2 separate regions of the Homo sapiens genome follow, and region 2 is linked to region 1. A link means that fine-mapping ties the variant in region 1 to the expression of a gene that starts in the linked region. Tissue or cell type: blood mononuclear cells. Region 1 holds a variant in brackets; the other region holds the start of a gene. All regions are shown on one strand. Distances are between the middles of the regions.

The links. PIP is the estimated chance that this variant, and not a neighbour inherited with it, causes the effect. A credible set is the group of variants that fine-mapping cannot tell apart.
Region 2: ZNF280B starts here. The variant in region 1 is the best candidate, but not a certain one, in a credible set for the expression of ZNF280B in blood mononuclear cells (TOPMed, PIP 0.67).

Annotation. Positions count from the first base shown.
Region 1 is chr22:22,472,419-22,480,602 of GRCh38, reverse strand. It overlaps IGL. Among named protein-coding and RNA genes, the nearest start is that of ZNF280B, 32 kb to the left of the region's middle. The variant A/C (reference allele first, on the strand shown) is at 3,705.
Region 2 is chr22:22,504,667-22,512,850 of GRCh38, reverse strand. ZNF280B (zinc finger protein 280B) reads left to right here and starts at 4,109. Exons shown (of 4, transcript NM_080764.4): 1 at 4,109-4,192; 2 at 4,981-5,041. It also overlaps IGL.

The sequences.
Region 1 (8,184 bases):
CAATCAGAAAGATTAGAGTCCTGCCTTGGGGCAGGTAAAAGGATGGCAGAAGGTCAGAAGCCTACCTCTGAGGCCTAACACCGAACATTATAACAAAAGACTGTAACAAGGGCTGTGGGAGTTATGAACTGTGGACAAAACCAATGTATATTATAACACCACAAGAGCATAGCATACACAGCATAGAGATGCTGGTCAATGGGATGATTTATGTCCTGAATGGAACTCAGAGCCACTGCACTAGATTTCATCACACTAACCAGAATGGCATGCAATTTAAAACCTAAGAATTGTTGGCTGAGTGTGGTGGCTCACGCCTCTAATCCCAGCACTTTGGGAGGCTGAGGCAGATAGATCATTTGAGGTCAGGAGTTTGAGAACAGCCTGGCCAACATAGTGAAACCCCATCTCTACTTAAATACAAAAGTTAGTTGGGTGTGGTGGTGGGCACTTGTAATCCCAGCTACTCAATACACTGAGGTAGGAGGATTGCTTGAGGCCGAGGAGCAGAGGTTGCAGTGAACCGAGATCACGCCACTGCACTCCAGCCTGAAGGACAGAGCAAGACCCTGTCATTAAATAAATAAATAAATAAACTAAAACCTATGAATTGTTTATTTCTGGAATTTTCCGTTTAATATTTTTGGACCACAATTGACTGTGGGTAACTGAAACCATGGAAAGTAAAACCACAGATAAAGGGGACTACTGTACTCTGAAGCATCATTTTTGATCTTTCAGAGCCTTAAAGGATTTTACCCTCTGACTGGGTGCAGTGGCTCACACTTGTAATCCAAGGCTGGTGGATCACCTGAGGTCAGGAGTTCAAGACCAGCCTGGCCAACATGGTGAAACTCCGTCTCTACTAAAAAAAAAAAAAAAAAAAAAAAAAAAAAATTTGCTGGGCATGGTGGCCTGCACCTGTAACTCCAGCTACTCGGGAGGCCGAGGCAGGAGAATCACTTGAACCTGGGAGGCAGAGGTTGCCGTGAGCTGAGATCAAGCCGTTACACTCCAGCCTGGGTGAAACTCTGTCTCAAAGAAAAAGTAAAAAGGATTTTTACCCTCATCTTTCATATTTCTGCACCTTTCTTTAGTGCCCTGGATATAACCTTTGCTTGGGAGCAGTTAATTTTAGCATCTTTTGCCATCTGGAAAGACTGGGAATTTTCAAAACCAGCAGGTACTGGCTCTTGGCTCTTTTTTGTTTAACACTTCTTCCCTTAGCTTGTTTCTGTCCCCTCAGATTTTACTATAAGTAGCAAGAAGAAACCAATCAGCACTTTCAGCATTCTGGCTGGAAATCTCAATTAGATGACTCAGGTACATTTTCTACTTTCACCTGACTAGGTGATAGTCACTAAACTTTCTGCCACTACGTAACTACGTAACCCCTTGCTCAATTTTCTAATAACATGTTCCTCACTTCATTTTAAGCTACACCAGAGCCTTCTCAGAGTCCAGTTTTCTACTAAGGCTTGCACTGACAATCTCCTTGAAGATTTTTTAGCTTCTGCCCACTGCCCAGTTTCAAAGCCACTCCTACATTTTAGGTATTACACCAGCACCTCCCTTCCAGGTACTAAAATCTGTATTAGTTACCTATTGCTGTATAATATATTACTGCAAACTTATCAACTAAAACCACCACTATTTGTTATCTCATGGTTTCCGAGGGTCAGGAATTTGGGGTCACTTAACTGAGTGGTGCTGTCTCAGCTTCTTTCATGAGGTTGCAGTTAAGATGTTGACTGGGGCCATATCATGTGAAAGGCTTGACTAGGGCTTTCAAACTCACTTGGGTATTGGCAGGAGGCCTCCCTCTGTTCCTTGTCATATGGTCCTCATGACATGTCAGCTGGCTTCCTACAGAATGAGTGATCCAAAAGAGAACAAGGAAGGCATTGCAATGTTTTTTATAATAGCCTTGGAGGTAAAATAACTTCACTCTGTTGTATACTCTTGGTCACCCAGAGCAACCCTGATGCTATGTGGGAATGGACCATATACAGATAGGAATACCAGAGGGTGGGGAATCACTGGAGGCCATCTTGGAAGTTACCACAGGGAAAATGGAACATTAGAAGTTTTTATGATACAAGGAAGGCAGCTAAAACTGAGTTAATGGTCATTGTGTTGCCTTCCCACTCTCTGGTGTGCCATTGTGGCTGACACCATTTTGAGAGGATTCTTTTTAAAGTTCATTTATTTTAAAATGTTGAGTATATAATATATTCACATTCTTCAAACATCGAAAAAGTAACAACTCAGATTCTTTTTTTAGCCTTTCAGATAGTTTCTTATTTTTTCTTTTCTTTTTTTTAAATAACTGATTTATATTATGCACAGTCTTCTGCACCTTGCTTTTTTTATTTGACGGTGTAACATGTTCACATTTTATGGCATATAAACAGGAAAATTATAGCCTGAGATTATGAAAGGGCTAATTAAAAATATTTCTGAAGTGTTTCCAAAGATTACTAAGAAAAATCGGGGGCCGGGTGTGTTGGCTCACGCCTGTAATTCCAACACTTTGGGAGGCCAAGGTGGGCAGATCACAAGGTCAGGAGTTCGAGACCAGCCTGGCCAATGTGGTGAAACCCCATCTCTACTAAAAATACAAAAATTAGCTGGGCATGATGGTGGTGGGCACCTGTAATCCCAGCTACTTGGGAGGCTGAGGCAGGAGAATTATTTGAACCCAGCAGGTGGAGGTTGCAGTGAGCTGAGATCGCACCATTGCACTCCAGCCTGGGTGACAGGGCCAGACTCCATCTCAAAAAAAAAAAGATTACTAAGACAAATCTCTAATGCACTATTATAAAATTGTTGTAAAGAAAAAAATCCCTGTCCATTTCACAAAGAATAAATATAGCTGATTGGTAAATAAATGCAAAATATTTAGTCTCCATAGCAAAAACAAAAATGGGAATTAAAGCAATGGTAGCGTACTGATGAATATTATATAAATTGTAATGTTTACTGTCAGTGAGGATGTATTAAAAGGAGTTTCAATTGGCATAAGCCTTTTTGGAAGTTATTTCAATATATGAATAAAAAGGTAATAATTTCATTTTTTTCATAGGATGCTTTTTTTTTTTTTTTTGAGACAAAGTCTCACTCTGCTGCCCAGGCTGGAGTTCAATGGCGCAATCTCGGCTCACTGCAACCTCTGCCTCCAGGGGTCAAGCAGTTCTCCTGCCTCAGCCTCCCAAGTAGCTGGGACTACAGGCACCTGCCACCATGCCCGGCTAATTTTTTGTATTTTTAGTAGAGACAGGGTTTCACCATGTAGGCCGGGCTGGTCTCAAACTCCTGACTTCAGGTGATCCACCTGCCTTGGCCTCCCAAAATGCTGGGATTACAGGCGTGAGCCACTGCTGGCCTCATGGGATGCTTTTAACATATCCAATAAAAATTTACAGAATGAATGTTTATGTATATATCCAAAATTGAGTATGTAAGATAATTCATCAATACTTTGGTTGTACTAATGTAAATGTAAAGTAGAAATAATTTTTTTTTTTTTTTTTAGTTAGAGACAGGGTATCTCCATGTTGGTCAGGCTAGTCTCAAACTCCTGATCTCAGGTGATGTGCCCACCTCGGCCTCCCAAAGTGCTGGGATTACAGGCATGAGCCACCAGGCCTGGCCAGAAATAATTTTAAATGCCTGGAAACTGAACAGTTTTGTACTTTTCATTT[A/C]ATAGCTGCACAATCTACTTTTTTTGTTGTTTTTCGTTATTGTTGTTTTGGTTTGGTTTTTTTTTGAGGCGGAGCCTCACTCACTCTGTCGCCCAGGCTGGAGTGCAGTGGCACTATTTCGGCTCACGGCAACCTCCGCCTCCTGCGGTCAAGAGATTCTCCTGCCTCAGCCTCCTGAGGAGCTGGGATTACAGCCGCGGGCCCCCACGCCCGGCTAATTATTTTTTTGTAATTTTAGTAGAGATGGGGTTTCACCACATTGCCCAGGCTGGTCTCAAACTCATTGGCCCCAAGTGGTCAGCCGCCTCTGCCTCCCAAAGTGCTGGGATTACAGGCATGAACCACCGTGCCTGGCTGAAATAGCTGCACTATATACTTTTTTTAAAAGAGATAGATTGCAGTAATGTGAAAGAAAACTAGCAGGAAAAAAATTTGTATACATTGTGATCTGAACTATGGAGAAAATATGTGAAAGAACAGCCAGGCGCGGCGGTTCACACCTGTAATCCCAGCACTTTGGGAGGCCGAGGCGGGGCAAATCACTTGAGCTCAGGAGTTCCAGACCAGCCTGGCCAACGTGGAGAAACACCGTCTCTACTAAAAATACAAAAATTAGCCGGCGTGGTGGCAGATGCCCGTACTCCCAGCTGCTCGGGAGGCTGAGGCAGGAGAATTGCTTGACCCCCCCAGGAGGCAGAGATTGCAGTGAGCCAAGATTGCACCACTGCACTCCAGCCTGGGTGACAGAGTGAGACTCTGTCTCAAAAAAAAAAAAAAAAAAAAAAAAGAAGAAGTAGGAGAAGAGACTAAAATTGTAACATCTAACTTCTGAACTATTTGGTCTTTACGGCGTAGTTAAATATGCTCCTTGAAACAAATACTTCTAGGTCGGGCATGGTGGCTCACGCCTGTAATTCCGGAATTTTAGGAGGCTGAGGAGGAAGGATAGCTTGAGCCCAGAAGTTCAAGACCAGCCTGGGCAACACAGGGGGATCCAGGCTGTACAGAAAATAAATAAATTAGCCAAGTGTGGTGGTACACACCTATGTTCCCAGCCACTTGGGAGATTGAGGTAGGGGAGGATAGCTTGAACCTGGGAGGTCAAGCCTGCAATAAGCAGTGATTGTGCCACTGCACTCCAGCCTGAATGACAGAGCAGGACCACATCATTAAAAAAAAAAAAAAAAAAAAAAAAAGCCAGATTTTATGTAGTAAACTTGCATTGTTTTGAAAAATTTTTTAGGCCAGGCGCGTTGGCTCATGCCTGTAATCCCAGCACTTTGGGAGGCCGAGGCGGGCGGATCACGAGGTCAGGAGTTTGAGACCAGCCTGACCAACATGGTGAAACCCTGTCTCTACTAAAAATACAAAAATTAGCCGGGCGTTGTGGCGGCTGCCTGTAATCCCAGCTACTAGGAGGTTGTAATCCCTAGGAGGTTGAGGCAGGAGAATCACTTGAACCCAGGAGGTGGAGGTTGCAGTGAGCCAAGATCGTGCCATTGCACTCCAGCCTAGGTGACAGAGCAAGACTCCATCTCAAAAAAAAAAAAAAAAAGAAAAATTTTTTATATAAAATAAGGAGCTTGTTTTCTTTGCTATTATCAGTCAGAATTACATCATAGAGAGATTTTTTTTTTGAAAAAATATTTGACCATAAACTCTTCATCTAGTATACCTCTTATTGTTCCCTATGGATTGGAAAAATATTTGCATTCTATTTTTCCTAGACCCACTTTCTCCCAAAAGAAGGCAGAAGAATCATTCTAAAGGCTGATCTGAAATCTCTGTGAACCTGGGCAGTGACTGAGTGAGGAGGAGGAGAGGAGTCTAGACCACGGTGCTGAAGTTCCAAGGGCCCACTGGCCTCACAGCTAGTGTTGGACTCTCTAATGGCTCTTTTATGCCCTCCTCACCTCTTGCATAAAGGTTAGGTATTTGTGGGACACATTATGCAAATCTGAGCCTTTTATCTCTCCCTCCTCCTCCTATTCTGGTCTTTGTCCCAGGGAGCAACTCCCTGTCATGGGGAGGCCTAGGTGGCTGTGAGATCTGGCTTTGCCCTGTGGGAGGGAACAGCTGCTGTAACCTCTTGCAGGGCCTATGAGCAAGTGTCCAGGGTACCTAAAATATGAACAACCTGAACGTCAGGCTTCAGAGAGGATCCACGGCACCTTGCTGTGGTTTCCTGGGGTGGAGGATTGTAGTACCCCTCTCATTCATTTAACTTTTTTTGACATTTCTACTGTATTTCCTAGGCAAGCCCACATTCATTGTTTGTCTCTTTGTTCAGTCCTTTTTGTAGTTATTGTTGAAAATCCACTGCATTGTCTGTATTTCATTTCAGTGTTATCCGTCTTGTTTATCTGAGTGTTTTGAATGACTAAAGAAGTTATATTCATGACCATCTGATTTGAAGTTATTTACTTTGAACCTCATGCTGAATAAACTGCTTGCTTAAGATGAGAATTATTTAAATAATTTACTTTAGAGTATCTTATTTTATTTTAGTTTTTTAGACGGAGTCTCCCTCTGTTGCCCAGGTTGGAGTGCAGTGGTGCAATCTCAGCTCACTGCAACCTCTGCCTCCTGGGTTCAGTGATTCTCCAGCCTCAGCCTTCTGAGTAGCTGGGATTACAGGCGCCCGCCGCCACCCCGACTAATGTTTTTTTTTTCTTTTTTTTTTGAGATGGAGTCTCGCCCTGTTTCCCAGGCTGGAGTGCAATGGTGTGATCTCAGCTCACTGCAACCTCTACCTCCCGGGTTCAAGCGATTCTCCTGCCTCGGCCTCCTGAGTAGCTGGGATTACAGGCATTCGCCACCACGCCCAACTAATTTTTTGTATCTTTAGTAGAGATGGGGTTTCACCATGTTGGTCAGGGTGGTCTGTAACTCCTGACTTTGTGATCCACCCACTTCGGCCTCCCAAAGTGCTGGGATTACAGGTGTGAGCCACTGCACCCAGCCTAGACTACTTTAAATAGAAAATACAGACACATAACCAAAGACTGACTATGCTAGTCCAGCACAGACATTAGGCTCTGAGAGACCAAGACAGGGAAGGGAAATCTGGAGCATTTCAAAATGGAGAGGCACAAACTATCTCTGTTCTGACTTAAGACAACAGCAGCCCCTCCTAAAGGTGCTCATCGACAGGAGCCATCAGAGCTTTTGATGAGGTTTCCTGTAGGCTCTGCACCTCAGGAGCTTTTGCTCTGTGCGTATGTGTGTAAGGTCCTAGTTTGTGGATTACTCTATTATCTATTATTTTAATAAAAGACATCTAGAGTGTACTACTGTCGGTAGATCAGTTGGCCACGTCAGGGTTCATCTACAGGGTGAAAAGGGTACCCTAGAAAGGATGTATCCGCCTTTATGCACTTTGGGGGGATTTCAACTTAAGTACAAAGCAGGAAAAGCCTTACTTTGTGACTGGAAACATCTGTGAGGTGACTCCTATATTATTATAATTTATTACTATTATTTTCATTTAATTTGTAGCCATAGTTCTATGGTAAATAAAATCTGTACAAAATTTTGCATACTTGTGTTGAACCAGATATTTAAGTTTAGGAATTTTTACAAAGTAAATGACTTGCTGTATGAATAGATGTAGTTTGAAAGAAGTTCAACAACATGTAGTTTATAATAGAGAAAACATAGAATCCCTGTAATACTATGAATAAGTAATGATCTAAGGAGCTTTATATACTTGAAAACATGCAGAGATGTTGATTATGTATTACTAAATGGGAAAACGCCTCGTAAGATAAATTGCATTCTGACCCTTCTTTCCTTGCCTCCTCCCTTAACCCCTTTCCCTGTCCCACCTCAACTAACATCTGACAGAGCAAATGCAGAAATCCAGAAGGGTATTTGTTGTCAAAATATATATAATGGTTATCTCTAAGTAGTGAGATATGGATAATTTTTGTTTTAAACTTTTTTTTTTACATTAGCTATTACTTTTGTTCTACACACTCTTCCTTTTTACATTATTTAACCTCAAAAGAAAGTTTGGGAGAGGGGCCAGGTGAGGCGGCTCATGCCTGCAATCTCAGCACTTTGGGAGGCCAAGGCAGGAGGATCATTTGAGGCCAGGAGTTCAGGACCAGCCTGGGTAACATAGCGAGACCCTATCTATACGAAACATAAAAAAAAAAAATAGCCAAGCATAGTGGCACATGCCTGTGGTCCCAGCTACTTGGGAGCCTGAGGTGGGAGATTTGAGCCCAGGAGGTTCAGGCTGCAATGAGCCATGTCTGCACTCCTGCCTGGGCGACAGCAGTGTTAAAAAAAAAAAAAAAATGTCTGGGAGAGGACAGAATAGCTATCAAGAAAAAGAAGTGTGTCATCCCTGATCCTGGACAAGTCACTGGTGCCTACATCTTTCCTCTATGGCTCAACACAATTGGTCACTCAACACACAGTCATTGGTGCCTTTTATTTTTGGAGACGGAGTCTCAATCTGTCGCCCAGGCTG
Region 2 (8,184 bases), 32 kb before region 1:
AAGGGTGCTGGGGCACTGGAAATGTCCCATATTTGGATCTAAATCGTGGTTTTATGGTTTATCTTTCATGAGTCTTATTTAAGAAATTGTCTACAAACGACATAAAGATATTCCTTCTATGTTCTAGAAGCTTTACTGTTTTGATGAGACATCTCAAACTGATTTTTTGTTAATGGTGTGATAAGGCATGAAGACTAATTTTTTCATATACATACCCAAAATCAATCAGCACCACTTACTAAAAAGACCACTCCTTCCCTACTGTATTGCCGTGGAAACTGTGAATCAGGTATGATTGTATATATGTGTTTCTGGAATCTATTTCATTTCATTTGTCCTGTTCTCTATCCTTGTGCTAATGCTGCAGTATCTTAATTATTGTAGCTTTGCATAATCCTCCGTGTGGTAGTTTCATTTCTCCAACTTTGGTGTTCAAAATTGCCTTGGCTATTCCAAATGCTTTGCGAATTGAAGTGGCTTTCATGGGTGTGCTTTTCTTGGTCTCAAACTCAGGTAGAATAGTTTACTTTAATTGTGATGTTAGCTGTGGGGCTCTTTGTAGTTACCCACTGAGTACACGGGAATCAACTTACAAATCAGTAACAGAAAGATCACTGAAAAAAAACCCAAAGTTCCTAAATTAGGCAATACATTTCTAAACAGGGCTGGGACTAGGGTGAGGCAAGCAGGGAACCTAAGGTGACAATATGCCATACCTGAAGCTGGGCGTGGGTCTCTCCTTAATGTGCCTCAGCCTCCTTGCTTATCTCACCCCAGTCCTGGTCCTCATTCTGAATAACCCATAGCTCCTCTAAGAAATTGCAGTGAAAAAAGGAAAATGTTGAACTGAAAGATATTGAAAACAGCCACAAAATTTATGGGATGGAACTAAAGCATTTCATGGGAATTTATATTTCTAAATGCATATATTTGGGAAGAAGAAAGGTTGACTAATGATCTAAGTCAGTGCTGTCCGTAGATCTTTCTGCAATGATGAAAATGCTCTACTTCTGCTCTGTCCAATATGCTACAGGTGACTATTGATCTGTTGAAATGTGGCAAGTATGACTGAGGTACTAAATTTTTTATTTTATTTTTGATTAATTTAAAACTAAAAAGCTATTTTTGATTAATTTAAAACTAAAGGAAGAAGAGACAAATCTTCCTTAAAGAAGAATTGCAAAGTAACTTGTGTAGATAATTTTCCTTCAATGAGACCTCACGGCCTTCCTGCATGTAGGCAAGATTTAGAATAAGGTATGAAAGGGGGGGGAAGTAATTTACAGCGGAGAAGCCAGTAGGAAGTCTTATTGATAGCATGGATCGCTGATGAGAAATTATGAGAAAGACACATCATGTCTGTGATAGTCTTCTAAAAACCATAACCCCAGTGTAACCATGAGAAAAACATCAAACCTAAATTGAGAGACACTCTGAAAAATACCTGACCTTTACTTCTTAAAATTGTCAAGGTCATGAAAAGCAAGAAAAGTTTAAGAAACTGTCACAGACCACAGAAGGCTAAGAACACAAAATGACCAAGTACAATTCAGTATCCTGGGTGGGAATCTGGAACAAAAAGGATGATGGGAAAAACTAGTGACATTTGAATAAAGCCTGGAGCTTAGTTGATACTAATTTACTGATGGACATTGGAATTATTATGAAGCCAAAAGAAGATCATTTCTCATAGATTTATTTTTCATGTTATTATTTTTTGAGACGGAGTCTCGCTCTGTTGCCCAAGGCTGGAGTACAGTGGTGCAATCTCAGCTCACTGCAACCTCTGCCTCCCAGGTTCAAACAGTTCTCATGCCTCAGCCTCCCGAGTAGCTAGGACTACAGGCGCGTGCCACCACACCCAGCTAATTTTTGTATTTTTTGTACAAAAATGGGGTTTCACCATGTTGGCCAGGCTGGTCTTGAACTCCTGACCTCAAGTGATCTGCCTGCCTTGGTCTCCAAAAATGCTGGGATTACAGGTGTGAGCCACCGTGCCAGGCCTCTTACGTACATTTTAGATATTGCAAATATCTTCTTTACATATCAGCCTCATATATACATTTTAGATAATGCAAATATCTTTACATATCAGCCTCATATATACATTTTAGATACTGCAAATATCTTCTTTACATCTATGATCTCTTCATTTTGACTATGGTACACTTCACTGAACAGAAATCTTCAAATGCAAGGGTGAGTAATATTTAGGCCATGTGATTTGATTATAATACAATTAAAAAATCTTTTAAAAATCTCATAGATTTCAAAAATAAATAACATATACTATATAACCCTTGTGTTAGAAAGAATCACTATGTAAAAAATAGAGGTTCCTCTTCAAAGACTTTCCTCCCTGTCTAATTACGAATAAATAGTAACTTCTCTTAGAAGTAAAATTTATTCAAAGACCTGTGCTAACATTCTTAGATATCTGCTAGCCGTAATAAAGAAATTAATATACTTTGTGTTCTTAGCTCCCACAATTTAGCCTAAATATTTGCCCTTGCATGCTTATACTGGTCCAAGCAAGCATTAGGTCATAGCCTGTTCCTCTTCCTATTTGGAGGTGTTTTTACCTTTCTCAGCATTCTACAAGTTACATCCTCCTTCCTTTGTTCTCCTCTGCCTTTGCCTCTTTTAGAAAGTTCTAAGTTGTTAGCCAATCGGGACAAACACAGAATGTGAGGTCCTGTTCCAGCCAATGGAAACCGGACACAGCAGTAGGGTGGATGCGTCAGGTTATAAATAACCCTGTATCCTTTGTTTGGGGTACTCTCGTGGCAAAACTGCTGGCGAGTGTACCCTTTCTGCAGAAAGTGAAAATGGCCTTGCTGAGAAAATTAAATTTATGTTCAAGTGCTATTTCTTTGCGGCACCAGGGAACAAGCATTTCTAACAACTAGCAAAATTAGGACATATCTAATTGAAGGATAATGAACATATTACCAAGCGGACTGGTGAGACACAGTTAAACTGGTACTTAAAGGTAAATTTATAGCATTAAATACAAGAGAAACAAAAAAGTTTACAAGCAAACGAGGTAGGCATTTTTCTCCAAAAGTTGTAATGAGAAGTAACAGAACAAGCCTATGAAGTCACGAAGGAAGAAAATAACAGAATGGAAGAAATAGATAAAATAGATAAGAAAATAACATTATAGATTAATTAAACCAAAAGCGATTTACCCGCCCCCCAAAAAGATTGCTAAAATAGACTTTTGGCAGAATTGGTCAATTCAAAAAAAAAATCAAAGCTGCAAGTAAACTGAGTGGGCAAACTTTCTGTAAAGGGCCAGACAGTAAATATTTTAAGCTTTTCATACATGGTCTCTGGCAATTAATCAACTTTGCTGTTGAAGCAGGAAAACAGGCATAAATAATACCGAAAGGAATGGGCATGTTTGTTGTTCCAATAAAACTTTATTTATGGACACTGAATTTTGAATTTCATATAATTTTCACATGCCACAAAATATTCTCTTTTTAGCCATTAAAAAAACGTGAAATCGGTTCTTAGCTTGCTGCCAGCTGTACAAAAACAGGTGGCAGGCTGGATTCAACTGGCCCCAGATGTAACTAGAAGAGGACAGATGTTAGGTTCAGTTGTTTCCTCACAATCCCTTAAGCATGGATAGTCAACAAAGGGACCACACCTGAGAATTATAACAGCTGGCCTTCTGGTGGGCAAACCATCCCCTGATGGACTGGAAGCCTACCCCCCACCCCAAGCCCTGGCTGCGACAGCTCTGGAACCCTGACTGCCTGGGTGCCCCTCAGCTCTGGAACCCTGACTGCCTGGATGCTCCTCAGCTCTGGAACCCTGACTGCTTGGATACCCCCTCAGCTCTGGAACCCTGACTGCCTGGAACCGTGATCCGGAACCCAAGATCCTTTCAAGGCCTCAGGGGTATTGCTGCTGCCCTCCTCCTTCTCAATTTAACCCCGCGTCCAGCCGTCGCCACCAGGGGCGTCAGAGCGCGCGCATGCTCCTAGCTCGGAGCCGCGCCGATCTCGCGCCGGCACCTGGCAGCCAATCGCAGGTCTCCACTGGACGCGCGCGTGTGGAGGCGTGCGCGTCGGCGGCGCCGGGGGCCTGAGGAGGCGTAGTCGCCGCCGGCTGTGCCCCGGGAGCGCCTCCGGGGCTGGTGCGTGGCCGGCAGCTCGCGAACAGCAGCTGATCCGGACTGGTAAGGACGGGGGCGTGGCGCGGCTTCAGCGTTCCCTGAGGGGAGACTTGAGGGATTTCATGGCGAGCCGCAGCCCTGCGGGTCGCGACACCGCGCTTGGCCGTGCGCTGCCGGAGCGGCCTTTGCAATACAGCCGCTTTCTGTGGGGGAGTGCAGGGCAGAAGCAGGTCCCACGATCCCCTCACGCACACCCCCTTCCCTAATCTCAGCGGGCGCCACTTTTACATCAGCCTCCACTCCCTCACGCAGACGCCCCCACCCCCGGGCTGGGCCCGGGCCTCCTGGAGAAGGGGCCTTTCCTGGCTCCCAGTGCGCTCCCCTCCCCCATCGCCCCCGCGGGGTCTCTTTTGGCGCTCAATGTATTTAAAAATCTGAAAACTGCTTTGTAACCCCAGGCCCTCCCCAGTTCTGGAGACCTGTAGGCCCAGACCCCTTAAGGCATTTGAATGTATGGGTCTCTCTCCCCTACCGCAGCGTCTTGTCTCATTTACTGCGTCGCTGTCGGGACTCTTAATGCAGCCCCTGGGACCCTAATGGAGTCCCTCCCGTGAGAGCCAGGACCTCGGGTGATTTGCAGGCTTTTGATTTGGGCAGTTGGCGGGTGGGACGTTTTCCTTTGCTAAGGTAGGGTAGATTGGAGGAACAGATCTGGGGGAAAGGAGTTCAGTTCACTTATCTGGTTAAGTGTGAGATGATTGATAAACACCTAAATGGCAATGTCAGGCAGTGGGATCGAAAATATTCTTGTGACATGTAAGTAACTAATGCTTCTCTCTGGTTACCTCAAGGATGTGACCTTCTGCCTGGAATAGCTCAAGTTCTTAAAAGTTGCGTTGTAATAAACCTGAGGTAAGAAAAGAGAAGTCTCCCTGATGAGGACCAAAGTTGTATTTTCGTCCTTCAGTTTCGCTCCCCTGCCCTTTCCTTTGCTGAAACATAGCTGTTTGGTATTCAATATTTTACTGAGGGAATCTGAATGATGTGTTTGATTAGTTCAGGCCAATTGTTGATGTAGGTCATTCGGGAACCCTCTAAATTGCTTTGTTGAGAAAGGAGAGGGTGGTAGTGGCATTCTTTTACCACATCTCTTGAAAAAAAAAAAAAGAGCATCAGGGATGTTAAGTTATATAAAGCTGACTCCTTTTATCCTACCCTCTTTCTCAGCGACTGTATTTCATGAGGTAACTGCATGCAGCAGGACAGGGGAGGTCATCTGAAGTCATTGCATGCCAGTAGGTGAGATTATAGTGAATTGTGTGCCCAGCAATTTGTGATTACAGCTCAGTGAGACCCATTGTATTAGTTATCTATTGCCGTGTAACAAATTGTCTCAAAACTTAGTAGTTTAAAAAAAAATTTATTACCTCATAGTTTTTGAAGGTCTGGAATCCAAGAGTGGCTTAGCTGGCTGTTTCTGGCTCAAGGTCACTCATGAGGTTTCAGTGAAACCCTTGGCTGGATTGTCAGTCTCTGCGGAATTGACTTGGTTTGGATCATCTGCCTCTAAGCTCACTCACTGGGCTGTTGGCAAGAGGCCTCAGTTCCTTGCTCTGTGGGCCTCTCCATGGGGCTGTTCATGTCACAGCAGCTGGCTTACTTCAGAGCAAATGATTCAAGAGACCTTGTACCCAAGATGAAGGGCAGAGTCTTTATGACCTAATTTCTGAAGTGGCATACCATCACTTCCTGCTGTATGTGCTTGATCCCACAGGCCAACCCTGTTAGTGGGAGAGGGCTACAACTATGTGAATTCCAGGAAGTGGGATTCATTTAGGGCCATCTTGGAGGATGGCCACCGCAACCATTTATCCACCATTTAACCCTTTTCCATAGGATCTCAAAGCATTGTCCTGTTACTCTGGGTGAATAATTTGACTTCTTGCTAAGGCCAGAACCTCTACATGTGCACTTGTTTATTTAAGGATATTATTCTAGCAAGACTTCTCTTTGTCTAGGGTTAAGTTTTCTATCTCTCCAGATCATTAATATAGCAAACATACTGATTGTACCATCACCTCACCTTAAAGATCTCGTTTTTGATGCCACATCTCCCATCTGCTTGTTTTAATTTGTATTTGCTTGTCCTTACAGGAAAATTTCTCCAGAGTTGTCCGTATTTGCTATCTCCTGTTCTCGTTCTTCCTTAAACCCACTGCTGTCAAGGTCACCAATGAATTCCACTTTGCTTAATCCATTGGTCAGTTTTAGTTGATTTTCGTGATTTTATTTGATCTATTGGCAGCATATATTACAGTTCCTTTTCTCCTCCCCATTGGATTCTGGGATGCTTCTCTTTCTCAATTCTCCTCCCACCTGAATGGCTGTGAATAATTGTTTTTTTTTTAATTTCCTTTACCAGCTCCTTCTCATCTCCATGACCTCTAATCAATGGAATGCTCCAGAGCTTAGATCTCAGACCTCTTTTCCCTGAGTGATCTCATCCAGTCTTGTGTTTTAAATAATGCTACATACTGAAGACTTCAAAATTTAAGTACCTACCTCGGAACTTTCCTTGGGCTCTGATCTCATAGATTTACCTGCTCAGCATTACCTCTTGTGTGTCCTCCTCCTCTCCTTCACATCCCAAACCCAATCCATCAATGAACCTTGTGGGCCTTCTAGATTTTTATCTAGAGTCCGACTTCTTAGTATCTCTATTTCTCCATCCTGTCTGATACTACCATCATCTTTTGTTCATAATATTTCAGTAGCTTCTTGTCTTCTGCTTCCACTATTACTCTCTAAAGTCTATTCTCCACACAGTAGCCACAGCAATCCTAATGAAATGAGTGAGATCATATTACTTCTCACTCAGAGCCTTCCAGTAATCTCTCATCACACTCAGGGTAAAATCTGAAGAATTTGTTTTTATTTTTTGTCTATTTATGTACTTATTTTTTGAGATGGAGTTTCGCTCTGTCACCCAGGCTGGAGTGCAATGGCGCAGTCTCGGCTCACTGCAACCTCTGCTTCCTGGGTTCAAGTGATTCTCCTCCTCAGCCTCCCAAGTAGCTGGGATTACAGGTGCCCGCCACCACACCCAGCTAATTTTTGTATTATTATTATTTTATTTTTATTTTTATTTATTTTTTTGAGATGGAGTCTTGCTCTGCCACCCAGGCTGGAGTGCAGTGGCATGATCTCAGCACACCGCAGCCTCTGTCTTCTGGGTTCAAGCAATTCTCCTGCCTCAGCCTCCCGAGTAGCTGGGACTACAGGCACGTGCCAGCACACTTGGCTACGTTTTGTATTTTTAGTAGAGACGGGGTTTCACCATGTTGGCCAGGCCGGTCTCGAACTTCTGACCTCAGGTGATCCACCCGCCTCGGCCTCCCAAAGTGTTGGGATTACAGATGTGAGCCACCACACCTGGCCAAAGCTGAAGAATTTAGAATGGCCTACATGATCTTGGCTTTCCTTTGCCACAAACAGCTCATTTTTTATCTCATTTCTAACTTGTCACTCTTTTCATTGGTCCACCTGTGTTAGCCTATTGATCAGTCCTTGCATGTGTTAAGTGCTCCAGTCTCAGAGGCTTTGTGTTTGCTGTTCCCTTTGTTGGAGTATTCTTCCCCAGATAGCCATATTCATGTTATGTGAGTATCAACCTGCCTCCATTTCCTACTTTATTTTTCTCCCTAGTGTTTATATAACCATGTTACTTTTGTTAAAAAAATTATTTTCTGACTACCCCTTCTGGAATGTCAGCTCCCTGAAGTGAAAGACTTTGGATCACTGCTATATCACCAGACCAATACATGGCACCTTGTTGGCCCACCAAACTTTTATTGAATGAGTGGTCTTCTTAAATTCGTCTCAAATACTACCTTGATGCTTCCCTTTCTCCTTTTCTCTGTAGTAATGAGATTATGAGAACTGTGCAGATTCTTGATCATTCCTGTATAATTTCTCTCTTAGTTTTTTGTGGACTGGGATATGTTTTAATTCTACTGATTGAATACATTTTATAGCTATAGTTCCACTAAAATAGC